7 separate regions of the Homo sapiens genome follow, and regions 1, 2, 4, 5, 6 and 7 are each linked to region 3. Evidence: fine-mapped expression QTL. A gene starts in region 3. Each other region holds a variant in brackets. All regions are shown on one strand. Distances are between the middles of the regions.

Region 1 (4,067 bases), 170 kb after region 3:
TCCAGGAACCTAAGGCTGCTCCTGTCTGTGGCTCTATGGCTCAGCCAGCCCCGACCCCTCACAGGGCAGCCAGGGCTGTCCCCTGCTCCCTTGCCTGAGGCTATCTACTACGGGGGTGAAGTCAGTGCGAAGCCAGAGGGTTGAAGACGCCCCTTGGCTCCCAGGTCTCCCTGGCTCTCCTTCCCAAGCAGCCAGCAACTGTGCCCATCTGCTCCTGTACAAGGGCCACCAAGGGGAGGGGGATTCCTCCAGATGGCAGCAGGGGCAGTCACTCGGAGCTGCAGGCCTGAAAGGTAGTACAAAAAATGAGTTAAACTGCACCCCCATCCCTTTGGTTGCAGATGATGTAGTAGAGAGAAACAGAGGAAGCAGGGGTGGCACCTGCCAACCCTTCCTCCAGGCTCCCACTGAGTTTGCTCGGCTCTGAAGTTGGTCCTGGCTGCCCTCCCGCTGTTCAGCACTCACCCACATGGTCCTTCCTCTCCAACAATGCTGTCAGAAGACTTGCCACTCTGCTCCCAATATGTGCCTGGCCAGGGGCCAGGGACTGGCTGCCGACCCACTGACTACCACTGAGCCAGACCCATGGCTTCCCCTCCTAGAGCTGCAGCTGGCATTTCCTCTCTGCCCCCTGGTCCCTTTGGGCTGCAAAGGAGCCCTCTGGCTCATCTTAATCTAGGCATGGCTGGGGGCTGCTCTTGGGGTAGGCTTTAAAGCCTTCTTTGCTCCATTTTGCAAGTCAACACCCCGCACACCTGCTCTCTCCCTTCCTCTTCTCTCTGTGTTCATCTCTGATTCCTTCTGTTGTTATTTCTCCCCATCCCACCCCTTCAATCCATTGTTCCCATCTACACATAGATATATGTCAGGATCATGCCTCTCTGAGATATCCTCCTTTAACCTCATATACCCTCCTAGCTACTGCCCTAGTTTCTCTCTCCTAACAGTAAAACTTCTTGGAACAATCATCTTCACATATTCTCTCTTATTCCTGCCTTCCATTAATTCCCTTACTCGCTGCAACTTGACTTCTATCTGCACTGCTCCACACAAACTGCTGGAACCAAGGACCTGTGTCCCCGTATTGTAAATCCAGTAGACACTCCAGTCTTTACACGCTTGACTCCTCAACGGAATCAGACACAGCGACACGTGCTCTGTCCTGAAACGCTCCCATCTCCCTCTCCCATGGCATCCCGGACACCCTGTTTCCTTTCTAGCTCCTTCTTAGCTGCTTGCGGCAGTGTCTCTTTTTCTATCTGATCCATAAATGTTGCAATTTATCTGCACTCAGCTCTTCTTCCTGCCTTCTCTTCCTCAGATTTAGGGCCTAAATGATTTCATTACAGAAAAATGAAGTCATTTTTTTCTAACACATTTCAGTGTGGACTGGGATTCATCGCTAAAGGACAGGCAAACATAAATCTTTCATCTCAAACCATGATAAGTGCTTGGAAGGAAAAATTTAAACAGAAAGACTGGGGGAGAGCCTAACTCGGCCTAATTCACACTGGGGTAGGAGTAGGGCGGCCTCCCGAAGGAAGCAACATTGGAGCTGAGACCTGACGGAGGAGGGGAAGTTGCACAGGTGCAGGGTCAGAGGAGAAGCAAAAGCGAAAGCAAATGAAACAAAACAATAAGTGGTAAAGGCTCACACAGATGACACACATATCCCTACCTTCAACCCAGACCTCTTCTCTATGCTGTTGATTACTTATCTACCAACCCTTCCTACCTTCCGAACATTTCCATTCCGGCATCACTCAGGCATCTCAAAAAGTCTGGATTTCCTCACAGGCACTTGTTTTCTCCCCAGACTTCCTCTGCTGTGTAAATGGCTTCATTTTCCCACCAGTTGTTCAAATAGAAACCTGAGAGTTCTTACCAACTCTTCCTTTCCCTCACTCCGCACATCCAACCCAATGGCAAAACCTGTTCCTTCTACCACTAAAATATATCAAGAACCCATCCACTTGCTCCACTGCCCCCAGCCTGGTTTCAGCCACCATCTGCTCTCAACTGGAAGACTGCAATAGCCCTTCAACTGCACTCCTAACCTTTGCTCAGGACACCCCCCAACCCCATGCAAGAATTAATGTGAACTTTAAAGAACAGGAACTGCTTAAAAATTCTGAAACAGCTTCCCATGTCACTTAAATACAAATCCCCTGGCCCGCACTACAGAGTCCTGTGTGATCTGGCCCCTGCCTGTCCTTCCAACCTCACCTGGGCTGCCTTCCCCTTGCTCACTGGATTAAACTCTTATGGCCATCTTTCAGTTCCTCAAAGCCTTCCCTCTCTTGCAGGCTACTTGTCACAATTTAGGTGACTAAGGCCTATATTTTTCTCTAAAGCATTGAGTTCCCATTCTATGGAGTGGTAGAAACGTATCTCAGCCAACTTGGAGTTTCTTTCCTTCTCTGGCGTTCCTCGACAGTTAAGTTGTGCCAGGTCATTAGG[C/T]TGGTGAAGGCCTGTCAGTCTTCCGTCACCTGTCCACAAGGGTGTCCAATGAGACATCTTTTATTCTCATAATTGTAGGTCATTGAGGCACATAGATCACCACTCAGATGAGTTCCTGGTGTCTGTGCCCCTTCACAAATGGTGGGCAATCTCCTTGCGGCTTTCATGTCTCACTTGGGAGCCAGGACTCTGCCTGGCTGTGTAAGAACAGTTTGTTCAGACCCACTGCACAGCTATTTCCCAACCCCACTCCCCACTGGACCTCAGGACAGATGACATCTCTGGTCTCCTCCTGTCCCCTCTACCTCTCCTTCCACAGGCCTGGGGGATATTTTCTAGTCCAGGGGAGACCCTGCTCTCCTCAATCCCCACATCCCCCAAATATTTTGGCTATGACTGGAGTCCTATACAGTTCCCAGGGGGCTTTTAGCCTTTTAGGGACCAGAGCTAGGAAGATTCATTTCTTTCTGTTACATCAACCTTAAAGCAATGGGCACCGAGTGCCAAGCAGCTTGGCCTGAGGGATGGGCAAAGGGGAGAAATAACAGGAAACTAGGACATCAGTAAACATTCAGAAATACTGTATTATCCCACCCCATTTGTTCAATGCCCACCTCTCCCACTCTATTAGTTAGAGTTCTCCAGAGAATTTTATGTATATGTAAAGCCAGATTAAGTCCTTTAGGGGCCCTAAAGCCCCACATAATTTAAAATAAAATAATTACTCAATCATAACTTTAAGAAACTCTTGTAAGTTAGTTTTCTCCAATGATGACTATTTCGATGCTTTGTTTGAGATATCAAACTCTTTCTAAAATTTATTTCTTGCAGGGGAGAGGGAGAGGTTGGCATTTGCTTTGCTGGTGGCTGAATCCCAGGCTTATTCTGCGTTGTGTGTGATCTCATAGTGCCTTCCCTCCGTGGTGGCAGGGGGTCATGGGAAAGCTGGGTAGCAGCTTAGCCCACCTGCTTATGGTAGCCACAGCCTTGACATTCCTAGGAGGCCAGCCTATTATCCACTAATTTAAAAATTAGTTCAACTCATTTCCTTGGAGGAGAAGTAATAAAGCTACTAATCATCTGATCAGAACTTCTATTTCCTTAAGAACTCACGGAATACTTATGACTGATTCATTCCTACATATTTTCTTGTGTTCTTGACATAAGAATATAAGACCAGTCTTATCTGTACATTTCACTTATCCGGCAAGCAGGGTAGGGGAGACTGGGCAAAACCTGAAACCAGAATTGCCTGATCCTTGTCACCTGGTTACATAATGTTCTTGTAACCCAAATAAACTTAATATTGCCCCTTAGAACTTAAAGCATTCAAGGCAAAGTGGACCTTGAAAAGAGTCGATTGTGATTGTAAATAAATCCCAGTAACTACTGCCTTTTCTCTTATTAGCTACTTCTTCAATCCCCATTTTTGCTTCTAGGGCTTGTTAGATTAAAGTATAGTGGTCCCTCAGTATCCATAGGCAGTTGGTTCCAGGATCCCCCCTTGGATACCAAAGTCCCAAGACGCTGAAGTCTCTTATATATAATGGTGCGGTATTTGCATGTAACCTACACACATCCTCCTGTATATTTTAAATCATCTCTAG
Region 2 (4,067 bases), 110 kb after region 3:
GCATCTCCCCATAGTACCTGGGGTGTTCTGAGCACACAGGGCACTCTCCACACATAAGGTGGTGCCAACAGCTGCCGGACACAGGAGAGGCAGCCCAGGCTACTGCAGTCACATGGTAATGTCACGTGCCATAAACACATAAGAAAGCCAGGGGATGCTCCCAGGAAGTTGCAGGGTATCAGCCAGAGTCCCAGAAGGAAGATGGCATTCCCAAAGGGTTTAGCTGAAGGGATTTTAATGAGGGGATGATTTATAGAGAGGTGGGCAGATTTCACAGAACCACAAAAGATGGTGAGATACCCAGGAACCTCACCATCCTGGGACTGTGTATTCATAGGTTTGTCACCAAATTTTTGCTAAAACTCAAGGTGCATATTATTGGGGTGCTATTTGGCATAGAAAACATTTGTCCAGGAAATTTTCTAATATCATGTCAAGTTAAACATAATTCATTGCAAATAAGAGGTACAAGGCATAGTATAATAGCAAGCTAGCACAAACAAAATTTGTAGACTTGCTAAAACATGGGAGAACAGCGTAGGCCAGAATAACAGTGATTAAGAGTTCAGGCTCTGGTGCTGGAGTCCCTGGGTTCAAATCCTTACTAGCTATGGGATCATAAGTGAATTTACTCATGTGTAAAATAGAGGTAATATTACTTATCCCATAAATTGTTATGAGGATTAAAGGATTAAATGCAATATTTGTAAGATGCTTAGAACTTTACTGGCACATAAATACTAGCATTATCTACAAAATTATACTACCCTTCCTCCGTTCACTCAATAAATATATAGTCAGGAGCCACATAACAATGTTTCAGTGAATGAGGGACCACATATACAATGGTGATTTCTTAAGATTATAGTATCATATTTTTATGTATCTTTTCTATGTTTAGATGTGCTTAGATACACAAATACTACTATGTTACAATTGCCCACATTATTCAGTACAGTAACGTACTATAGGTGTTTGTAGCCTAGGAACCATAGGCTAGACCAGATAGTCTAGGTGTGTAGCAGGCTACACCATTTAGGTTTGTGTAAGTATACTCTGATGCTCTCATTACGAAACTGCCTAACAATGCATTCTTTAGTAGGTATCCCCGTTGTTAAGTCACACATGACTGTGTATTAAATATTTACTATAGGCATCATCCTAGGCTCTGGGGAAAGTGGTAAGAAAAAAAAGACTACCTTTCCTGATGGACTGGGAAGAAAACATTAACTAATAATCACACACAGAAATAAAATCAAAACCATGAGTGGTGGTGCTTGGAGCCATAAGAGCTGGTAATGACTATACAGGGGTAGGCCTTCTTGAGGAAGTGACATTTACCTATGACCTAGATGAGTTTACTAGGGAAAGTTCATTAGGTAAAGATGAGAGGGGGAAAAATACCAGGCAGAGGAAGCACTATGTCCTCTGTGGCAGAAAGGATCATGGCAGGCATATTAGTCAGGACCCAGCCAGGAAAGCAAAACCCACTCTAGGTGATTTGATAGAGGGAATTTCATACGGGGAGTCAGAGGAGTTGAAAGAGCTCCCAGGGGAACCCTGAGAGTAGCAACTCCAGGAAGCTGGGACTACTGTATTTGTTTGCTAGGGCTGCAGTAACAAAGTGCCACAGACTGGGTGGCTTCACACAGAAAGTTATTGTCTCAGAGTTCTGAAGGCTGGAAGTCCAAAATCAAGGTGTCAGAAGGGGTAGTTCCTTTTGAGGCCTATGAGGGAAGGATCTGTTCCACGCCTCTTTCCTTGACTTGTAGATGACCATTTTCACCTATGTCTCTTCACATCGTCTTCCCTCTGTGTGTGTCTATCTCTGTCCAAACTTCCCCTTTTTATAAGGACAACATTCATATTGGATTAGGGTCCACCCTAATGACCTCACTTTAATTCGGCTACTCTATAAAGACCACAACCCTAAATAAGGTCACACTCTAAAGTACTGGGGGTTAGAACTTCAACACATGAACTTGCAGGGGAGACACAATTCAACCCATAGCACCACCCTGGAAGCTGGAGAACAAGGAAAGAAACAGTTTCTGGAGCCTAAGACAAGATAAGCTGGAACAAAGAGGGCCTGCCAAGATGGGTAGCAGGGATCACACAGAGATGGCTGTGTAGTGGGAACTGCAGCCACAGAAGAGACTCCTGAGAAAGAGAAGCAGGAGAAGTACTCTGGCTTCTCCTTCCTTCACCTCCAATATCTTTTGCCCTCCCTCACTCCCCAT[T/G]GGCTGAACTTTACTGGAAGGCAGTTGGCTCTGGAGCCTGGAACAGCCCCCAGTGACACAGAGCAGATCGGGGGACCACGGGATGGGAAGGGTGGACATGGCTCTGACAGCAACAATGTAACACCCATGCAACGAGTCTGCGAGGCCGAATGGAAGCCAGCTGGCTGCAGGGGAGAGAGCAAGAGAGTCTGGCAGAAGGTGCACCTGGAGAAGGAAGTAGAGGCCAGGCCAGGTAGGAGTTTGGTCTGCATGCTAAGAGCCATAGAAATATCCAAAGGTTTTTAATAGAGCTGGGGGAGAGGCGGTGATGTGATCAGAGATGTGTTTTGAAAAGACCTATCTGGCTATGAAGTGGAGAGTGGGTTGAGGATAGTGGGGCAGATCAGTTAGAAGGCTACGCCTAAGAGAAAGCCTGTTTTACAAAAAGAGGGAGCTCCTGCTGCCCCTCTCTTTCCCTGGAGTTTTCATACCCTCCACGTGTACTAGACATGTGTATCTGCCAGTCAAAGCCACCCCTCCCCTGGTGCAGAGGCCCGCTCCAAGCTCTCATTGCCCAGTGTCCTTTTTCTAGATCCTCTCCTGGTTCACTTCCTTTCTCTCTGGGCAGTCCTTCCCATGCTGCAACACTGATTCTTCTTTTGTCACCCACCTGCTGCAAGGGGGGCCCTTGTCACCCATCTCACCCATCACTCTGGCTTAATGGTGCTGACTGAGTCCACGGCTTTGGTGGCCACCCATATGTTGCTGCTGCTTCTCAGATCTGTATTTCCAGACATGATTTCTCTCGTGAGAAAAATCAGCCTGCCAGATATCTCCACTGGAATGTCCAAAGGAATTGGAATCATGAGCTCAGCATGTCTAAAACTGAACACATTATCTTCCCCTCGCACGTGGACCCCTGTAACCTGCCCTTCATCCTGTGTTCCCTATCCTCCTTATGTCCCACCCCCACTCCTGTTTGAATATTTCACCAGAAACAGGAGTGGGGGGTGGGACGTAAGGAGGATGGGGGAAAGAACATCATCCTAAACTATTCCCTCTTACTCCCCCACATCCCATTGCTGTCCAAGTCCTGTTGGCTCTGTCCTAGATATCTGTCAAAATCCACTTTTCCTGCTACTTCCCTAGCCCAGGTCCTCATTTTTATGTGGGTTCATGCAGTGGTCTCCTAGCTGGCTTCCTGCCTCAAGCCTTGCCCTGGCCGGTCCACTTTTCCTACAATCAAAGTGACATCTACCAGTGTAAATAGATCATGTCCTTTCTCTGCTTAAAATCCCTTCAGTGATTTCTTATCGTCCTCAAGTCAAGTCTGATTACTATCTCTGCACAGTGCCCAGCCCACAATAAATGATTGGTGATTAAATGAATAAATGACAAACCAATATAGAAAAATTGCTAAGTGTGGAAATGAAGAAAAGATGCCATTTTTTTTCCCCTGGAAGTCTTTCCGACTGTCCAAGACTCAATCTGGATCTATCCTTGGGTGTGTTTGTATTGTACTTCTCACACTATACTAAACCCATCTACTTACCTGTCTGTTTCCTACTGGAATGTTCCTTGGTTGCTACTATATCTCTTAGCACAGCTCCTGGAAGAAAGTAAATGCTCAAAAAATATTTGATGAATGAATGAATGATAAGGAGAGCTCTGGGCTGGGGCTGACTATGAAATGCTTATTAGGAGCAGAGTGTGTCTGTCCTGGTTCCAAAGCACTGGGGGAACCAGGATGGGTAGAGAGGCTGAAGGCAAGCCCTTTAGGGGAAGGATAGCAGTGACGAAGGCTGAAAGATCAACAGCAATACATTTTTCTCAGGAGACTTCTTTGGG
Region 3 (4,067 bases):
GTACTTTCTTGGCACTGGCAACTAGCAACACTGTCCACAAGGAGAGGAAGAGGAGTGCTAAACCACAACAGAAGTGGGCAGGGCTCAGCCACAGCCTGATAGTTCTGTCCTGACAAAGACTCTGCCTTACCTCTCTGGGTTGAGGTCTACGATGCCCATCACTAACACCTTCTTGCCTGGTCTCATGCCACCTTTAATGTGCCCACAAAATGGAACTATCTGAAAAGGGTGGGAGAAGAAAAATGAATTTTACAGCCTGTTAGGGAAAAGCCAAGACCTCAGACCCTGAAGGCCTGACCCACTGGAAAATGCAATAAACAAATGAATAAAATTTTAAAAAGCAATGAGAAAGGAGGAAGGTACAGGCAGAGACACAGAGCAAAATCATTTACCAGTCGTGGGAAGTACACGTCCGCTTGAACTGGAGAGCTCAAAGAGTTGTTTAAATGGCCATCATCTAGTTTCTAAAAATAGAAGTACACAGATTGGCTTTCCATGGGCTCTTTTTTGGGGGGCTGGAGGAAGAACCCACACAGATGTGGTGGAATCCAGCAGCCTTCCACATGCACACAGTGTCTGCAGATGATGCCTCTTCACCGTCTCTTAGATAATCTCATCACCCCCGAACAAAACCCATCCTTTCCACCCGGTAGTTAAGCCTCTGAAGATCCGCAGACCCTTCAGATCCAGATCAAAATCAAGGTCGAGGTCCACCGAAGAGCCAGAGCCCCACGCCGGAGGAGGGCAGGCCCCTCTCCAACCGTAAACGCTTCTGGAAGCGCGGTGGGCCAGGCCTGTCCTTCGGGACGTGACTGAAGTGCAGCGGCCGTGCTCAACTTCTCTCGGGAGCCCCGGGCGCCGACCCATTTCCAAGGGGGAATCCCCGGTACGTCGGGGGCGGTGGCGGGGCGCGCGCCCCGGACACACTCACCCACGCGCACACCTGGCTGGCGGTTGCACGGCACAGAGGGGGCTGTCGGGCGTCCCTACCCGCCATCCTCCCCAAACTCCCTCCCCAGCCCAGAGCCCCGCAGCCCGGGAGCCTCTCCAGCCCCTAACACCGGCCGCGCGCAGCCAGCGGCTGCTAACAGGTACCGGGCGCCTTCCCACGCGCCGGGCGCCGGCCGGGCCTGCGGCTGCTCAGCACCCCAGCACTGCTGGAGCAGGCGGCGGCGGAGTGCGGGACGGCGGGGAGGGGCGCCTCGCGCGCGCCCTGCCACACTCACCACCACGGCATCGCTGTCGGCCACTGATCCCGCCATCTTCTTGCCCGGCGCGGCGGGGTACGTGGGACGCGGCGCGCGGGCGGGGATCCCGGGGCTGTCCTGCGCGGGGCGGGGGCGGGGGCGCGGGTCCGAGCTGGCGGCGGGCGCGCGCACACACGAGGGGGCGCGCGCGCGCGCGCCCGGGGCCCGGCGCCGACCTGGCAGGCAGAGCCTGGGAGGAGGGGAGGGGAGGGAGGCAGCGCGAGCTGGGAGGGCGAAGGTGCTTGCCGCGGCCCAGAACGGCCCCGGACCCGGGCCGACGGGGCTGCTTGCTGCCGCTGCCGCTGCCGCTGCCCGACCAAGAAAAGTGGCGAGGGCCGTGCCGCGTCGGCCCTGGGCAGCATTTAAAGGCCTCCGGGGCCCGGCTCGGGAACCGGGAACAGGGCGGGGACCCGGCGGGGCTGCCGCGGCTTGCTCAGCGGGCCCTGCCCCTCGGCCATTGGACGGTGGCGGAGGCCGGGGCGGGAGGGACGGGCCTGTCCGGGTCCGGGAGGGCGGGGGCCCTGTCGGCTCTCACCGGCCAGAGGGTGGGCAGGGCCGGGGCTGGAGAAGTGAGGGCCCGAGCCGGTCAGGTGACAGGTGCTCGTGCCACCCGCGCCCCTCCCTCCAGCCTCCTTCCTCCTGCCACGTCCTGGGCGCTGGTGGGGCGATGGGAGGCGAGGTCGAGGGAAGATTGGGTGCTGGGGGTGGTATTCCAGAGTGGGAGACTTGGCAGGATTTCTTTCAGAGAATTCCAACAAAATCGGGGGAAGGATTCATTCTGCTCTCTAGGGCAGAAAGAGAATGGAAGGTCTGAAGGCTTGCAGAAATAAATGTGTGACCTGAAAGAACGAAGCAGAGAGGACTCAAGGTAGGGACCTTTCTATCCCAGGAGGCTAGATACAGAAAGGTCGCTCTTCCCTGTGGAAGGACAGGCAGGTCTAGGGGTCCCTGGACTCTCTCGAGCAGGAGTCAAAGCCTTACCAAATCAAAGTGGGCGCAGTCACTGTCCTCAGAGAGCCTCCATTGAGCCCTGTTTTTAACAAGTCACTTGCCCAGTCTGGGGTAGTCAGCTTCTCACTGAAAATCTCCTCATACCCTTTGTGGAGTACTTCCCAGGGGATACACACCTCTTTTATTCAAGCCAGAAATTCCTTTATGGCATTTCCACACTAGGACGATTATGTAACTTCTCAGATAAAGCTGTATCAACATATCCTCTATTAGGTGACATCCTTGGCTGAAACATTCCATTGCATGAATCACCGGGGCGTTCTATGCTAATAAGCAGGGAGCATGTGTGACCTACTGCAGTCCCAGAGGGCCCCTCAGAGGCTCCTTTTTTTTTTTTTTTTTTTTTTTTTAAATTGAGACGGAGTCTCCCTCTGTGGCCCAGGCTGGAGTGCAGTGGCGCGATCTCAGCTCACTGCAACCTTCGCCGCCCGGGGAGGCTTCTTTCTTCTAGTCACTGCAATTGGCTGTGTGGCCTAGAACATCAATGTGGCTTTTGTGTCTTAGTTTTCCCTTTATGGACCAGAGCTAATGATGGTAATCTCAGTTGAGCAGGGAGAATTACCTGCACACGCCTGTAAGCCTCACTCATATCCTCTGGAAGTGGTTCTTGAACTAGATAGAGGCTAAAGCGCAGTACGCTTGTGGCTGCAGCACACTTTGTTTACCAGTCTTAGCTCAAAATCACACTTTATTACTTTAAAATGTTAGGCACTTATAGGAAATGATTGACATTTGAAAGCATACTTTAGTATGTATCAATTTCTGAGAGTCTGGTATAGAGAAGAAGCATTAAAGTGCAGTAGTTCTTTATCATTAACTGAGTGACACAATAAGGGTGACACTACATGTGATGGTGGTTAAAGAGCCGGTGTCTCGCGTTCAAATCCTGGCTCTACTATTCACTAGCTGTGTGATCTTGGAAAAATTACTAAACTTCTCTGTGCCTTAGTTTCTTCATCTGTGACTCAGAGATGACAATGATGATAATAATGCCTATCTCAGGTTATTGGGAAGATTAAGTAAATACCTTCCTTAAAACAGTATTGGGGACATAGTAAGCACTTATTATACCAAAATACTGAGTGCCTGCTGTATACCAGGCACTGGGGATCCAGCAGGCTACTTTTTTGCTGAGCTTACATTCTAGTGGGCAAAGGAAATCAATAAACAAAATATGTCGGGTGACAAAAGTGTTAGGAAAAAGTAATAAGGCCAGGTGCGGTGGCTCATGCCTATAATCCCAGCAATATAGGAGGCTGAGGCAAGAGGATCACTTGAGGCCAAGAGTTTGAGACAGGCCTGGGCAACACAGAGAGACTCTGTCTCTACAAAAATAAAAAAAAAAATTAGCTGGGTGTGGTGGTGTGCACCTGTAGTCCCAGCTACTTGGGAGGCTGAGGTGGGAGGATCACTTGAAGCCAGGAGGTCAAGGCTGCAGTGAGCTGTGATCTCACCACTCTACTGCAGCTTGGGTGACAGAGTGAGAACCTGTCTCAATAATAATAAAAATAATTAAAAAGCCAGTAGAGAGAGAGATAGGAGGTAGGGTGATGCTATTTATACAGGATGGTCAGGGAAGCCACCTCTGGTAAAGTGACATTTGAGAAGACCCCTGAAGGAGGGGGGTGAGTCATGTGGACATCTGGAGGAAGAGTTTGCTGGCACAGGGAACTGCAAGGGCAAAGTCCCCAAGTACTGGGGCTGGGGGCAGTGACTGAGGAGATGTGTAGCTAGAAATGGATAGCCCTTCTACACTGTGGTTGAGGATTGGCTTTTACATGGGGAAATAGGAAGATATTAAAAGTTTCT
Region 4 (4,067 bases), 180 kb after region 3:
GAGGCAGGCGGATCATCTGAGGTCAGGAGTTTGAGACCAGCCTGGCCAACATGGCAAAACCCCATCTCTACTGAAACTACATAAAATTAGCCAGGCATGGTGTAGCCATGCGCCTGTAGCCACAGCTACTCAGGAGGCTGAGGCAGGAGGAACACTTGAACCTGGGAGATGGAGGCTGCAGTGAGTTGAGATTGCATCATTGAACTCCAGCCTGGGCAACAGAGCAAGACTCCATCTCAAAAAAAATTTTAAAATAAAGGATAGAGGTAGAAGAGGACTAATCAAAGGGCAAAGAGGAGAATCCAGAAGGCCTGGTGTTAAGAAAGCTAGGAAAAGTGATATTGCCTGTTGCAAAATGGACAGAGAAGGCAGGTAAGTGGACGGGGTCATGAGGGAATCAACTGCAGGAGCTCAGCTGTGAAGGAGAAGAGAGCATTTTATTTTAAAGGAAGATTACTGACCATGTTCCCATACTGCAAGGGAGGGTCCAGAAATGCAGAGAAGAAGAAAAAAGGAATAATGGAGACAGCAAAGGCTCATGAGAGACTGGAGCTAGAGCACCAGTGAGGGCTCTGGGCTGGTGAGAATTCAGCTTTTCTTTGAAAATACAGGAGAGGGCTTGGAAGGTGAGGTGGCTGCAGAAGAGCCTGCAGCTCTGAGGATGAGAATTCAGGGAGTTTGTGAAATAGAAGCTGCTATAGATTGAATGTTTGTGAACACCAGCCCAACTACCAAAATTCTTATGCTGAAGCCTTAATTAATCCACAGTGTGAGACATTGCAAGGTGGAGCCTTTGGGAGGTCATCAGGGTGGAGCCCTCATAAGGAGATTGGTGCCCTTATAAGAAGAAGAAACCAGAGCCCTCTCTTGCTCTGCCAGGTGAGGACACAGTGAGAAGAAGGCCATCTGCAAGCAGGAATGGGTCCTCACTAGGAATCAAATCTGCTGGCACCTTGATCTTGAACTTCCCAGCTTCCAGAACTGTGAGAAATAAATGTCTGTTTTTAAGCTACCCAGTCTATGGTGTTTTATTATAGAACACCATAATTCTATAATAAATTATAGAATTTATTATAGAATTATAATTATTATAAATATTTAATTAATAAATATAAATTATTATTATAGAATAAATTCTACAATTTATTATAGAATTATAGAATTTGCCAACATGGCAAAACCCCATCTCTACTAAAACTACATAAAATTAGCCAGGCATGGTGTAGCCATGCACCTGCATGACTACAGAATTCTATAATTCTATGATAAAATATAGACTATGACTAAGACAGGAGCCTTGGTGGTCTGCCAAGAGAAAGGTGGTCATGGTTGGGGAGGGGACAGCAACACAGCAGTGAGGGTTTAAGATGAGAGAGAAACAGAACAGGAGGAAAGGATGCTGACCAGGGGCCTGTGAGGGGTCACTGTGCTAAGAACCCAGCCGAGGTCAGAGGCCCCAGGTTGTGTAGAACCCAAACCACAAGAGTGTGTATTCCTCTAGCCTCCTTCAGGAGTCCTTGAGTAGGAAGAAAGAGGGAAAATGATTCACAGAGAAAACTGATTCACAGAGAAAGGTTTGCAAGACTGACATAGCAAAAGGAAGGGGAAAGTGGGTTGAGGTTGCTGGCAAGAGTCACAGAAGACACACACATGTATACATATACATACATATATAATTATATAGAATTGTATGTGTATATATAATTACATATGTGTGTATATATATGCTAGAGAGAGAGAGAAGGATTGATCACAAATGTAGAACAGGTCTGAGTTGCTAAAGTGGAGTGGAGTTGAAATTTTTTTTGATAAGGCTCTTATCAAAGAATGCTTCTGGAAGATTAATCTTTTTTTCTGGAAGGAAATAGAGGTAAGTGCACCACTTAGCAGGCTGATGTAATGGTCCAGATCAGAATTAGTAAACACACAGAATGCAAGTTGCAGTGACCCACCTGTGCCTCTGGCAATCGTCACCAATGGACAACCACACTCTGCTGCTGAACTCAAAATCTTTCTCTACACAGTGCTCGGGCAGCCACTACCAATTAGTTGGAATTGGCCCAGGAGATGGAAACTGCTTTCAGTTCTGGTCTGGATGAAAGGTAATAAGCCTGGCCTAGGTTTTTAGCAGCAGGCATGAAGTGACTGCAATGTGGAGCCCACCACAGGGTAAGAGAAAGAACATCTCACAGCCAGCCAGCCTCTGATCACTGGGTTCCCAGAACCCTGAGAGAGCTGAGGGTGGTGCCAGAAACGATCTCTGGACTCAGAATTGCTCTGGGGCACACCCAGAAGGCCAGTTGCTACTGAAGCACCCGAGCTCACCTGGACAGTCTCTCAGAATCCCAGGTCGGTTAGCCTTGGCTGGCTTCGGGAAGTGGAGAATCAGACAAACCACAGATCTCATGACTCAGTGATCTTCCATAAGGGAGTAGATGAGTGTTTCTGGCACTGGCCTGGTAGGAGCTCGTGGGAGGATGCCAATAATTCC[C/A]TTTAGTTACTCTGGGTCATGGTGTCCTACTAGCTAGAGCCAGCCTGAGGCCACAAGGAAACAGAAGCAGCTTTGGGCCCATCTCTGAGAAATACCTTTCACTTTATCTAATTCCCTTTCTTTTGGGTGAGCAGCTTCAGCCAGCAGGAAGCTTCATTTCCTTCCTCTCTGCTGGAACTCCTTGGTTCTGGGCCTTTGTTTTTATCAGCCATTGCAAAACTGATCTCTGATTGCACAATATGGGCAATGACATGACAGTGACTGAGACTCATGAATCCCATTAAGCCCAGTGGTGTTAATAGATCAGATATTCATAAAGAGATAGCAGTATTAATCCCTGACTTGTCACCACAACTTCCTTCAGACTGTCATTAATATTAAAAAGAATAAGTCATCGATATGTCATGCTGGTCTGCAGTTGTTTGGGGCCTTTTGTTGTTACATAATGAATGGGTTCCATGTGAAGGCCTCCGGGAGTGGTTTTTGCTGTTTATCTCTTTGTTCATGTTTGTTTATTTGTTTCTCCTTAGGCACTTATCAGAAGAACCAAGAACTGAAGATACAGGAAAAAACTTCTGCAAGTTCAATGTCCAAAAGAGACTAGGATTTAATTGAAACATACAGATCTAGAAAATCAAAGTCTGATTAAAAGAGTTAACAAAAGAAAGCACAACACTAAGGGGTGTGTGTGTGTGAGAGAGAGAGAGAGAGAGAGAGAGAGACAGCAGGGCAGGAGAGAGGGTAAGAGAGCAAAACAGCTTTGCAGGGGCAGGTGATGGTGTGATTTGAAATGCCTATGAGATGCACATCTGGCAGGTCTGAAGCCTGCAAGTAACACATGGAGCAAGTTACCCATCACCCTGGCATTTCCTCAAGTCTAAGCTATATTAGCGTCCAGCCTCCCACACTTTTTTGTGCATCCTAACCTAATTAGTTAAAGATTACATTCTCCTGTGTGAGTGGCAGAGTCTCTTGGGTACAGTCTTTTGGGCTAGGACCCAATAGATAGCAGTGGCTGTGTCATTTTAGATAGCAGTGGGAATTTGGTAATTGATTTAAAAACAAGTCGGCCGGGCTCGGTGGCTCACGTCTGTAATCCTAGCACCTTGGGAGGCCGAGGTGGGCGGATTGCCTGAGCTCAGAAGTTTGAAACCAGCCTGGGCAACACAGTGAAACCCCGTCTCTACTAAAAATACAAAAACATTAGCCGGGCGTGGTGGCATGTGCCTGTAGTCCCAGCTACTCAGGAAGCTGAGGCAGGAGAATTGCTTGCACCTGGGAGGTAGAGGTTGCAGTGAGCCAAGATCGCGCCACTGCACTCCAGCCTGGGCGACAGAGCGAGACTCTGTCTCCAAAAACAACAACAAAAAAACAAGTCAACAGATACACGCAAAAGTTCCCAAGGTGTAGGCCACATTCCAAACAGGGTTTTAATGGCTACCTACAAGTTTCCTAACCCTGCTTCCCCCCAGTTCAGCAGAGGGATCTTTCCTCAGCTAGCAGGCATTAATTGAATACCTATTAATGAATAGGAAGGAGCCATGGAGTAAGACAAGCTGACCTTAGTCAGTTTACA
Region 5 (4,067 bases), 190 kb after region 3:
GTGTTCCAAGCATGTTTAAGTTAATTCACTTGTATAATTAATTTGCTCTGCTCAAGTAACCTCGCACATCTATCGACCTGCACTTAGTCCAGCTGGATGCAATGACAATCAAATTAACCACGTGGTAATTCAGACCAGTCAAGAAAATGACCCTCAGCAAATTGCAGGCTGGAGTTGATTGTGCAGTTTGTGACTATGTATATGTTTTTCCACTTCTGGAGACATGGGAGACAAGCCTGGCAATTGACATACTGTAAGTGGGAAAAGCTTGAGATTATTTTTGGAACCAATCCATTGTCTACTCCTGTCTTCCTGATGCCAGGGAAAGGAAATACGAGTAATTGCTGTCCAAGCCGAAAGCTGGTTTTCATGGTGAGAATTCCTCCTTCTTTGGTAATGTTCATATGTGGGGTTTTAAAAATAGCTTTTATAATTACAGACTATACTATTAAAGGTGTGCCACTCAATTAACCATTTGCCTCCATAGCATGGGGATATCCCATAATGACAGGTTAATGGATTCCACGTTTAATAAAAACAAAAGGGACCATTAGAGTTCTAGTAAAGTCAGCAGCATAACTCTTTGCTGGCCATGGATTCCTTGTTAAACTGGCCTCAAAAGCAAATGTATGGAGAGCCTTTAAGATTTCAAACTAGTTTAATGAGTTTCACAGAAATGTTCAAAGGTAGCTTTCCCATCAACTTAGAATTGAGGCAGTGGAAGCTTAAATGGAGTCTTATGTTCACCTCAGAAGTGGGATACTCAGAAACTGACCCCTTGTTCCTTGAATCTCTCAGCTAATCCTACTTCCTCTCTGAACTGTGCTCACCAGTGTTTGAATCCATTTAAGTCAGTTCTGAGGAGGAAATTCCAGGCACTCTTCCCTACATATTCTGGCATGCAGAATCCAAAAGGAATTCTAGGGGGTGGAGGGCTGGCAGGAACACAGAGTGGGATGGGGCAGAAGTAGTGTTCCTGGGGAGGGCCTGGATATAGGATGTCATGCCCAAACAAGGGAAGGAAAAATGCAGGCCACTCTGGCAGGTAGGGATATTCAAGGGCTGCCAGTTGCAAGAAGCAGGATGGGGTGTTCATCCACCCGTGCCAGGGGGAGCAGGGTTATTCTGGGATATCCAATTCAAAATAGGTGGAAAAATGGGTCAGGGCTCAGGACCTAAACAATGAGGGCTAAAGGACCAGAAGTCTCCAGATAGCTACCTAGAGTATGTTTTCAAACTTTTGTGTGAATATGAGTCTCACAGAAAATGCAGATTCTAATTCAGTTGGTCTGGGGCTCTACATCTCTAACACATTCTTAGGTCATGCTGCTGCTGCTGGCTTATACACCACACTTTGAATATCAAGGGGATAGAGTATAGGTTAAGGTGTCTCCTTCTTTTTCTCCTAAACATCATGGTCCCAAGAGGAAGGAGAAAGCCTTGTACTCTACAGCCTGGGCAATAAGACTGCTACTGCCCAATAACACTGCTGAGAAGACACATCAGCCCCCACTGATCAGGGGAGCAGTCAAAGTCCTCTTGTTAATTCCAGGGCAGAAGCTGAGCAACTGGCTACTGGAAGAGACTCACAGCAAAAAACAGCCCAAAACAATGGGCAAAAGAAAGGTCATATTTGGTGAGTCCAGGGAAGAGGCTTAAGTCTCTACCCCTTTTTAATGCTTTGAAAAAAAGGATCTCTCATCACCCACACTATGGTCAGTGCTTTGAGTAAGGTCCCTCTACAGAGTGAGCCTCAGAGTATGCTGAACAAACACTGTGACCCAGGCCAGCAGACAGGGTTGAGGGGCTACTGCTCTCTCATAGTAATCTAGGAAAATATAGAGGGAAGATTTCTTCCGCGGCTGCTTTCCAGGAGCTCTAAATTGGGTACTGTGATGGTTAGTTTTATGTGTCAAATGAGCTAGACTATAGTACCCAGTTGTTCAATAAACACTAGTCTAGGTATTGCTGCGAAGGCATTTTGTAGATGTGATCAACATCCACAATCAGCTGACTTTGAGTAAAGGAATTATTCTTGATCATTTCTATGGGCCTCATGTAATCAGTTGAAAGTTTTCAGAGAAAAACTGAGGTTTCTCCAAGGAGAAGAAATCCACCTGTCAATTGCAGCTCCAGCTCCTGTGGGAGAGTTTCCAGCCCTCGGGCCTGACCTATAGATTTCAGACTTGTCAGTCCCCACAATCACACAAGCCAATTCTTGAAAAACTTTTGTAATGTAGAGTTGATCCTCATTATCGATGGATTATGTATTTGGAAATTTGCCTACTTTCTAAAATTCATTTGTAACCCCAAAACCAATACTTGCAGTGCTTCCGCAATCAATCACAGACATGCTCAAAGCAGTGAAAAGTTTAAGTCACCCAATGCACAAATTTTTCAGCTGAAGTCAATTGAGGCAGCACTTTCATGTTTCAGCTCTCATACTGTAAACAACTGTCCTTCTCACAGTTCATTTAGTGCCATGATTTTCACATTCTTGTGCTTTTTGTTGGTGATTTCATTGTTTAAAATGACCCTT[G/C]AGTGTAGTGCTGAGGTGTTGTCTGGTGTTTCTAAGCACCAGAAGACTGTGATGTGCCTCACAGGGAAAATACGTGTGTTAGATAAGCTTCATTCAGGCATGGGTGGTAATGTTTTGGCCATGAGTTCAATGTTAATGCATCAACAGTATATATTAAATAAGGTGTCTTTAAACAGAAACACACATAAAACAAGGTAATATCTTGATCAGTTGATGAAAATGTTGTGACCAGAGGTTCATAGGAACCTAACCCTGTAGATCCCCTAGGAGCAATGGTTCAGCATTTGCTATTTCAATGTTTGTGACAGCTTTATAGAACACTGCTATCACGAATAGCAAGAACTGACTTGGGTGGGGGTGTGTGTGTGTGTGTCCTGCTGGTTCTGCTTCCCTATGTTCCGCTTCCCTCTGCTTCCCTGGTAGCCCCCTTACTGATGCAGATGCAATACTGCCCTTTCCTCTAGGTCTGGCTATGCCTAGCACAGATGACAAGGGTGTTATGTCCTTTCTGTATTCAGATCCTCGACAATACTCTGCAGATGGAGGGGAGGAGTCCATGTACAAACCTCCTAGTGAATGTTAACATTCCCTTTAACAAGGAGAGTTTTTCTCTTACTAGTTCAGATTTAGGAACATAAAATATATGCAGGACTAGTAATTTGGATGTTATTCCATCTCTCTGATACAGTAAGAAGTAGGCTAGACTAGATAATGACTGGAATGCATTTCAGCATTTTTAATGCAATTTGAGTGATGAGTCCCAAATTACTTTTTCAGTGTAAACCAATCAAGTATATTCTAGTTTGAGTGTCTTTACCAAAAATAAACTTCTTTATGAATGTATAAAAAGTAATTAGACTGTCTCCAAGACATTGAGCCTATTCCCAAAGGGGGAAAGAAGCCAGCATGTCTCAGAGAAAAAGGAAAGCATCAATTCAACAAGCCCACTGCCCTTCCTCTCCCCACCCTAGTGGTCAGTTTTCATTTTCTTGGGCTGTAGTTATGATTCCAGCTTGCCTGGCCTGCAGCTGCAGGCTTCATTCCTAATTCCAAACTTATTGTCTTCCATGTTGCGCTGACTGCCACAGGAGGGTCTGGGTGAGAGAAAGTAAGGTCTTAGCTCAAATCTACCCCGCTCCTGAGACACCATGCATGCTCACTCCCTCCATGGGCTGGGTCCACAGCCCAGCTCTGCAGCGCGTGCCCAACACCTGAATGGGCCTTCAAAGGCTTACAAATAATTCTCTTTTTACTTCAAGAACATGTCACGACTAAGAATAAGCACCATGCATCAGCCACCATTGATCCTGAAATAAAATGCTGTCTGGACAAAAAAGAAAAAGCTTCTTTTATGCACTGATCCTAGGAAATCAGACCACCATTCACTTCACAGACCGTCTGCAATGTAATTCAACTGTCAAAGAGTGTTCAAACAAACAGAGGAAGGGGAGAGCATAATACAGCCTGAAATTTACTTGTATTCAAAAGTATTTCCCTTTAATGTTTAGCAACTTCTACAATATGAGTA
Region 6 (4,067 bases), 150 kb after region 3:
GGTGCACGCCACCATGCCCAGCTAATTTTTGTATTATTAGTAGAGACGGGGTTTCACCATGTTGACCAGGATGGTCTCGATCTCTTGACCTCGTGATCCACCCACCTGGGCCTCCCAAATTGCTGGGATTACAGGCGTGAGCCACCGTGCCCGTTCCCCTTTGGGACTTTAACATCACATGTTCCCAGGGGCTCTGATTGTTAGAATACAGATTGTCCCCGCTTCCAAGTTGGGGCTTTTATGAATCCATAGTGTTAAATCTCTGGAGGAAAACAGAAGGAGGATGTCTGTGTGTGCTTCCCTGTGAAAATCAGTACAGGTGTAGGTAGTCTTCCTCAGGCTCCACTCAAATTTACTTAGGCTTTCCAGCAAGAGCAAGACAGCCATGATGTTTGGGATCATTTTATGCATGTATCTTCTGGGTGCCTGGTACCCAGAAGTTTATTTCACCTAATCCCAATCTATTTCCCTAATGACACAACTATGATGTGTCTTGGAATACTTACCCCTTCTGTTAGTATCATCCAGGTGTCTAAAGGAACAGTTTGAAGAAGCATTCATATATTTTGGAAAATGATAGTCTAAGACACTGCCCAGTATATTATCTTGTATATAGTACCTATAATATACTACTTATTATATAAAAGGTAATATAAAGAGGCCAGGCGGGGTAGCTCATGCCTGTAATCCCAGCACTTTGGGAGGCCGAGGTGGGTGGATTGCCTGAGCTCAGGAGTTCAAGACCAGCCTGGGCAACACAGTGAAACCCCGTCTCTACTAAAATACAAAAAATTAGCCAGGCATGGTGGCATGTGCCTGTAGTCCCAGCTACTCGGGAGGCTGAGGCAGGATAACTGCTTGAACCCAGGAGGTGGAGGTTGCAGTGAGCCAAGATCATGCCACTGCACTCCAGCCTGGGTGACAGAGTGAGACTCTGTCTCCAAAAAAAAAAAAAGTAAGATATTGAGCAGTATCTTTGACTATCATTTGTTACCTTCTGTTAAAGGTAAACATGATAAAACAACTACTGATGTTTAGTGCTAGAAAATATTTCTATCCATAAGCAAACATTTATGCTTCCTTTTATTTGCCAGTGAGAACTATACAACTTGATGTATTGCTTATTTTGCTTTGCCTACCAGGAAGCTCAGCACTAAATTTAGTGTTCAATTGCAGCAACTAATTCATCCCAGCAATCTGGTGTGTTTATCTCATTTCACTTTTATTTGGTTTCTGTTATTTTTCTCTTTTTTAAAGCTTTTGTTGGCCAGGCGCAGTGGCTCATGCCTGTAATCCCAGCACTTTGGGAGGCTGAGGCGGGCAGGTGACGAGATCAGGAGTTGGAGACCAGCCTGGCCAATGTGGTGAAACTCCGTCTCTACTAAAAATAGAAAAAAAAAAAAAAATTAGCTGGGTGTGGTGGCTTGTGCCTGTAATCCCAGCTACTCAGGAGACTGAGGCAGAAGAATTGCTTGAACCCAGGAGGTCAGAGCTTGCAGTGAGCGGAGATGGCGCCACTGCACTCTAGCCTGGCGACAGTGCGAGACTCTGTCTCAAAAAAAAAAAGCTTTTGTTATGTTTTTAGATATATTCTAACACTGTAAACCACCTCCAATCCTGTTTTTGTAGTTGTCAGGACATATAATAAATCCAAAATAAATATGAATAAAACTCACATTTGTTCATTCTTCCAAAATTGTT[T/C]ATTGATCACCTCCTACATGTCCGGCATTTTGCTAGGTACTAGGAGAAACTCTGGAGGGCAAACAGACTAGTGCTCCCCTTGGAGAGCTCACAGGCACCAGACTCCCAGGCAGGAGGAGGGCAATGAAAACCCAAGGCCCCAGGGAAAGAGCCTGAGAAGAAAAATGATGAGATTGTGGAGTTGTGGCAGCCAGGAGAAACAAGTGTTTGCAAAGAAAAGGTAAATCCTCTGCTGCAAAGAGACCAAGTAAGACAAGGACTGAGATGTGCACACTTGGCAACAAGAAGGTCACTAGCTACTCTACCAAGAGCAATTTCACTGGAATATTAAATGAGAGATAAAGAAGTAGGGTCAGCAAGTGTCGACAACCCCTTCACAAAGTTTGGCTGAGGCAGAGAGAGACAGGGTGGGCCACTGGGGAGAATGTGATGACTTGTGCTAAAAGTGGCTCAGCCCCATCAGGTACCACCTAGGTAATGTCAAATGATTATTTGAATTCCTGTTAATATCCAAGTCTTTTTGATAGTCTGGGAGACTTGGACTATCAGGTCAATGAGAGAGGAAAAACACAAATATTAATGCTTTAGCTGCTCATTGCTCGGCTATCTTCTATTCTGTTAAATATCACTGTGGCTGTGGGTGCTGTCTTCCCAGAGCACCCAAGAACCCAGGAGCACCTTAAGGACTCTATTCTCAACTCAGATGTCTGGCACGTTTGGCTGCCAGTATACCGCTGGCCTCCATCCCAGTTCGACTTAAGAATACCACACTTTACAAAATCTGCACGATCAATTCCTCTGCACAGCAGAGGAAGTGGAGTTGGCCAACAAGCCCCATGAGCATGGGAAACACATTTACATTCAATTTTTCCAGGTCTGGGTTTATGTCCCACCTGGACCTCTGCTGGTTGGTTTCCTTATTCACCTGGCATTAGCTTGATTCATTGTAAGGATGGCTCTAATGACATGACAGCAATCTGCATTGTGATTTTGGTGTTGTGAACCTAGAAACAGTCCACATATCTTCAAGACAAACATAAGGGCCATGTGAGGCTCTTCCAAATTTACTTTCGTAATAATTGAAAGAAAAGTGGTAACTTTCTCCAAAATCACAGCAACTCAATATATAACTAATTACATGATATTCTGCCTCCTATTCCTCCTCTATCATGCACTTAACTTGCACATCACATAAACGTTCAATCAACTATCTCCTATTTTATAATGAGAGTTGTGCAATTACTTACATTTCTTTCTTTATCTTGGCTGCCAGGAAGCTCATATACAGGTTTTATTTTCAGATACAGCAACCTTCTTGAATTTTTCATTTGGCACATTTATTTATCCACTTACTTTGAGTCTATTTTTAAAATTTTTGCTCATTTTTTTTACTTACTATATATGACATTTTTGGAAACTGATTCATACCTTTTTTGAAAATGAGGTAGGGAATACATGAAATCAATGGATAATTATGCATTCCTCTGTTCCTTCTGCTTTCAGCTTACTCTCATTTGTGATATGGAAGGAATTCTTGTTTTCAAAGATAAACTCGTTGCTATTTTACCAAAGACTTTAGGGATGTGCGTGTGTGTGTGTGTGTGTAGCAAGATGCATTGTAGCACAATAGTTGAGAATGTGAACTCCGAAGACAGACCACCTGGGTTCAAATCCCAAATCTTCCGCTTCCCAGCATAGTGCCCTTAAGAAAATTTCTTTCTTAATTCTGTGGACCTTAGTTTTAATTATGAGAGTAATAATACTTAACCTATACTATGATTGTGAGGATAAAATGCTAATACATTAATACATGTAAAATGCTTGGAACATTAATGTTAATGGTTATTGTTGGTGTGGGCAGGGCAGAGAGGTGGTGCTGGAAATCAAGTCCCTCTCCAAAGGTGGAGAGAAGGTGGCACTACTGGTTGCTCTCCCTCCCTCCCTCCCTCTAGGTACTTTAGCCAGACTGTAGAAGGCAGCTGCGCAGTGGTAACTGGTTTAGAAATTTCCCTACTCTGCACAACAGGCCTCGGTTTTCTGCTCAAGATCCTTGCTCCACATGATCTCATTCTAATTTTCCCTACTTTACTTATTGAACCAAAAAAACTCCATAGGGACTTATGTCTATTCTTATTTTAATCCATCTCTTGAGCTTTTCACTCCAATGGCTTTTTAAAGACTTTCTATTTAGTTTTTTTTATTACTAGTCAGTTGGTCACTTTTATTCTTATATATGTTCATCAATAAAAGAGACAAATAGTCCTAGAAGGCAATCTTTTGTTCCCTTCCCCACAGAAGTCACTTTCAGTTCTTTTTAGCTATTTGGGATTTATTGCTATGTCTCTAAATAACATATTTGTGTTGTT
Region 7 (4,067 bases), 220 kb after region 3:
AGTCTTCTAATTGCTATTGCTGACGTAGTCTGCTGTAAAATTACAATAGTGAATAGGCAAGGACCGGAAGATTCCAAATTGTGAAACAATTTGGAGAGGTACTACAAATCATCTATCTTAAAAAAAAACATGGCTGTCAGAGCCTGGGACCTGATTCGGAAGACATCTCTGACTGGATAATGCTGATTATGAAAATTGCTGAAAGGTTATAAATAAAATGTTAAATAATACAGTACAGCTAATTCTTCAGGTGTTGATTCCATTCTCAAGTAAGAATCTACATGAATCAAGTAACAGCACACAACTTTCCTGGGGGTAAAGATGGGGAGCTAGGAAGCCCAAGGTAAATGCGCATTTTTATTCAGATTCTCGAAGAGGTATGTGACCCAAAAAGGGTTAAAAACTAATGTTATCTATATTATTTTGTAAACTGCATCTTTTAGTCGGTACATCTTGTCATCTTATCATGTCATTGAATATTCCTCTACAACATCTTTTCAAGTAGCTAGAAGAATTTTAATGTATGCATGTGCCGTTATTTGTTTAACTATTCTCCTAAAGTTGAACATTTAGTTTACTTCCCATTTTTGCCAGTATCAACTTGTAACTAAATCTTTGCATACATCCTTAATTATTTGCTTTAATACAGTAAAGGGGTTAAATTACAGGGACCAGGCTGGGCGCAGTGGCTCATGCCTGTAATCCCAACACTTTAGGAGGCTGAGGTGGGCAGATCAGGAGATCAGGAATTTGAGACCAGCCTGGCCAACATGGTGAAACTCTGTCTCTACTAAAAATACAAAAATTAGCTGGGTTTGGTGGTGGGCGCCTGTAATCCCAGCTACTCGGGAGGTTGAGGCAGGAGAATTGCTTGAACTCAGGAGGCGGAGGTTGCAGTGAGCCGAGATCGCGCCACTGCATTCAAGCCTGGGTGACAGAGCAAGACTCCATCTTGAGAAAAAAAAAATTATAGGGCCTAATATTTGCAATTGTGTATGGGAAAAACTGGCTTCACACAGGATATTTCATCCAGGTTTGAGATCATAACCTTCCTTTAAATCAAAGAGCACAAAGCTAGCAACTTCAAAAAATGAACATTTAACAGCATTTGTATTTATTTACATTGAATTGCTTTACCATTTCTTCAAGTTGCTTTACCATTGCTTCAATCAAAGCAGCAAAATGTTAGTAATGCTAAATTGAAAGAAATTCTGAAGGTGCCATCTGGAAATGGCAGCACCTTGGCCCTAAAAAGCATTCTTGACTCAATATTGAAGATACTTGTCATGGTATTTTTTTCTGATTCCAGGGAGTTTTAATATATGTTCAATTGAGTGATAATCTTAGAAAACAATCATGGACCTCTTCACTATGTTTCCAAGAAAGATCTCAAGCCTTCGAGATTAGCACAAATCTTAAAAGGTCATATCTGAGTACTTTTGGTTTCTTACCTCCTAAAAGGCAAACCAGGCCATTTGTTGTTTTGCCTGGTAACAAGAGGAAAGAGCTTCTAAAATTAGTGTGAAGCCAGACCTACTGTGAATTAATAATGAATAGAATCACTGATTCCATAAATAACAGGATTCAGGGTTGAGAAGGTCAGCTTGGCTGCACTCCTAGAGGAGTAAAAGCGCCTCCAAAGTTAATGCTAGAAATAAAAGGTAGGGAGCCATGATGTTTCTAAAGGAAACCTAAAGAAAATCTTGCTGTGCAGGATGAATTTCAGTAGTGGCCATTCTTAAAGTCAACTGCATCTCAGATAATCATAGTCAAAAAAGTAAAGCTAATGAACCTCATCCAACAACTTGGTTTAGGATTATTGTTTGTGATAGCGTACTTTCTGTCATGTTAGTCATCACCATGAAAAGCTGTTTTTAAAAAGTGATCCCAGGCTGGGCACGGTGGCTCACGCCTGTAATCTCAGCACTTTGGGAGGCTGAGGCGGGCGGATCACGAGGTCAGAAGATCGAGACCATCCCGGCTAACACGGTGAAACCCTGTCTCTACTAAAAATACAAAAAATTAGCTGGGCTTGGTGGCATGTGCCTATAGTCCCAGCTACTTGGGAGGCTGAGGCAGGAGAATCGCTTGAACCCAGGAGGCAGAGGCTGCAGTGAGCCAAGATCATGCCATTGCACTCCAGCCTGGGTGACAGAACAAGAATCTGTCTCAAAAAAAAAAAAGTGATCCCACTCTCAGAAAACATGAATAGGTCCCCGGCCTGTATAGCCCTCCCAACTGGCTTTGATCTTTCATACCTACATGTTGTCAGGTAAATTAATTTTTTTTTTTTTTTTTTT[TG/G]AGACAGAGTCTTGCTCTGTCACCCAGGCTGGAGTGCAGTGCCACAATCTCGGCTCACTGCCACCTCCACCTCCCAGGTTCAAGTGATTCTTCTGCCTCAGCCTCCCAAGTAGCTGGGATTACAGGCACCCACCACCATGCCTGGCTAACTTCTGTATTTTTAGTGGAGATGGGGTCTCACCATGTTGGCCAGGTTGGTCTAGAACTCCTGACCTCCAGTGATCCACCTGCCTTGGCCTCCCAAAGTGCTGGGATTACAGGCATAAGCCACCATGCTTTTTTTTTTTAGACAGGGTCTTGCTCTGTCGCCCAGGCTAGAGTGTAGAGGCATGATCTCGGCTCACTGCAACCTTCACCTCCCGGATTCAAACAATTCTCCTGCCTCAGCCTCCCGAGTAGCTGGGATTACAAGCGTGCCACCACGCCCAACTAATTTTGTATTTTTAGTAGAGACAGGGTCTCACCATGTTGGCCAGGCTGGTCTCAAACTCCTGACTCAGGTGATCCGCCCGCCTTGGCCTCCCAAAGTGCTGGGATTATAGGCCTGAGCCACTGGCCCGGCCGTCAGGTGAATTAATTTAACAGACAAGACAAAACCCTTAAGGCTACATTTGGATCCCCTATAGAGCTCTGATAGTCAAGGAATCTTGAAAGTAGCCCAACAGCCAAGAACTTGTCTCAAATTGTATTCCGTTTTCTTATTTCTGATGAAACTTGGTTTCCAGAGATGAATAGTAATCTCATTTTTTTTTGTACGTTCAGGTGTTCAATTGCTGTTGTTTTTCTAAAATGGTAGTTTTCTTCCCTTTAATCCACCGCTTCATGTCACCTTGTGATATCAAACAAGGATATCACATTTTGAACCACACTTAGCACAGGCCAAATACTTTATGAAATGGGCATGACTCAAACTTGACAAAGTGAAGAATAAAGACCCATGCTGCCCTTTTCCTAGAAAGCTGATGAATCCTTCACCAATTCTTTTCAGTAGTTTTGTTCCTGGCCCACAGGGCTGTTCGTTCTTCTCAGCACACACTATTTACGTATCTTTCACTACGGTACAGATTCTTCAAAGACCTTCCCTTTGTATCTCTAAGATAGCTAAGTATTTGAAACATCCACCCCATTTAATTAATGCAACCCAAATAGTAGAGATTAAATCATCCCAGGCTTCCAGGCAAATGGAGGCTCTTTCCTCTGGTAGGTCACAAACACACACACAAATAGAAGCAAATGTACACCTATGTAAAAATACCCATCGACTCCAGAACTGCTCACAACAGAATCTCGGGAAGCTGCCTTGTTACTAAAAGATCCCAAAATAAAAATACAAGAAAATAGATTCAAAGGAATAAGGTAAAATTTCACCTTTGGAGAGCTGGCTCTAGACAGGATAAACTTGATCCTGAATTTGGTCATAGCATGCAGTTTTTTCATGGGTTGGCACAGAGGACCAAGGAAGAGCAGACCTGGGAATCACAGGAATGCTCTATCTCAGGCTCATGGATGCATTGGCTGAGAGCCCCAAACACGTGAAAGTTCTATTGCCACTATCATGGTCCCACTGTGGGAAGACCCACTGTTAAGTCAGGTTACATGTTTGAAATCAAAATTTAAAAGTATGCTCCTCTAAGCTAATAGTATAGAACTGTACATGACCTTGGCCTACTCTAACCCAGTGAAACATTACCAGCTCAGTAGAGCAGAAAGAGGTCATTTTCAAAACTGGTTGAATTATAACAGGATTTCCTGAAGGCCAAGAGGAA

Direction of the effects. Alleles are on the strand shown, and positions count from the first base shown. SD is a standard deviation of normalised expression in the study named. Not every link is listed here.
As copies of TG replace G in region 7, the expression in monocytes of the gene that starts at base 1,646 in region 3 goes down (large effect, 1.4 SD a copy in Schmiedel 2018).

What was found.
Region 1: its variant is fine-mapped to the expression of LGALSL in whole blood (TOPMed, PIP above 0.99).
Region 2: its variant is fine-mapped to the expression of LGALSL in whole blood (INTERVAL, PIP 0.99).
Region 4: its variant is fine-mapped to the expression of LGALSL in whole blood (INTERVAL, PIP above 0.99).
Region 5: its variant is fine-mapped to the expression of LGALSL in whole blood (TOPMed, PIP above 0.99).
Region 6: its variant is fine-mapped to the expression of LGALSL in whole blood (TOPMed, PIP above 0.99).
Region 7: its variant is fine-mapped to the expression of LGALSL in monocytes (Schmiedel 2018, PIP 0.95).

What each region holds. Positions count from the first base shown.
Region 1 is chr2:64,281,379-64,285,445 of GRCh38, reverse strand. No RefSeq gene overlaps it. Among named protein-coding and RNA genes, the nearest start is that of MIR4433A, 57 kb to the left of the region's middle. The variant C/T (reference allele first, on the strand shown) is at 2,461.
Region 2 is chr2:64,339,940-64,344,006 of GRCh38, reverse strand. It overlaps MIR4433B (microRNA 4433b), which reads left to right and starts at 3,159; the gene lies at 3,159-3,260. MIR4433A (microRNA 4433a) reads right to left here and starts at 3,248; the gene lies at 3,168-3,248. LOC105374768 (a long non-coding RNA gene) reads left to right here and starts at 2,298. Exons shown (of 3, transcript NR_189739.1): 1 at 2,298-2,472. The variant T/G (reference allele first, on the strand shown) is at 2,241.
Region 3 is chr2:64,451,741-64,455,807 of GRCh38, reverse strand. It overlaps LGALSL (galectin like), which reads right to left and starts at 1,646. Exons shown (of 5, transcript NM_014181.3): 1 at 1,227-1,646; 2 at 393-464; 3 at 131-219. The coding sequence starts at 1,262. LGALSL-DT (LGALSL divergent transcript) reads left to right here and starts at 930. Exons shown (of 3, transcript XR_002959392.2): 1 at 930-1,283. RefSeq lists silencers at 1,000-1,299, 1,390-1,459, 1,470-1,889.
Region 4 is chr2:64,272,306-64,276,372 of GRCh38, reverse strand. No RefSeq gene overlaps it. Among named protein-coding and RNA genes, the nearest start is that of MIR4433A, 66 kb to the left of the region's middle. RefSeq lists an enhancer at 3,637-4,067. The variant C/A (reference allele first, on the strand shown) is at 2,492.
Region 5 is chr2:64,264,761-64,268,827 of GRCh38, reverse strand. No RefSeq gene overlaps it. Among named protein-coding and RNA genes, the nearest start is that of LINC00309, 61 kb to the right of the region's middle. The variant G/C (reference allele first, on the strand shown) is at 2,540.
Region 6 is chr2:64,306,001-64,310,067 of GRCh38, reverse strand. No RefSeq gene overlaps it. Among named protein-coding and RNA genes, the nearest start is that of MIR4433A, 33 kb to the left of the region's middle. The variant T/C (reference allele first, on the strand shown) is at 1,702.
Region 7 is chr2:64,234,955-64,239,021 of GRCh38, reverse strand. All of the region lies in intron 2 of LOC100507006 (a long non-coding RNA gene), which reads right to left. Among named protein-coding and RNA genes, the nearest start is that of LINC00309, 32 kb to the right of the region's middle. The variant TG/G (reference allele first, on the strand shown) is at 2,301.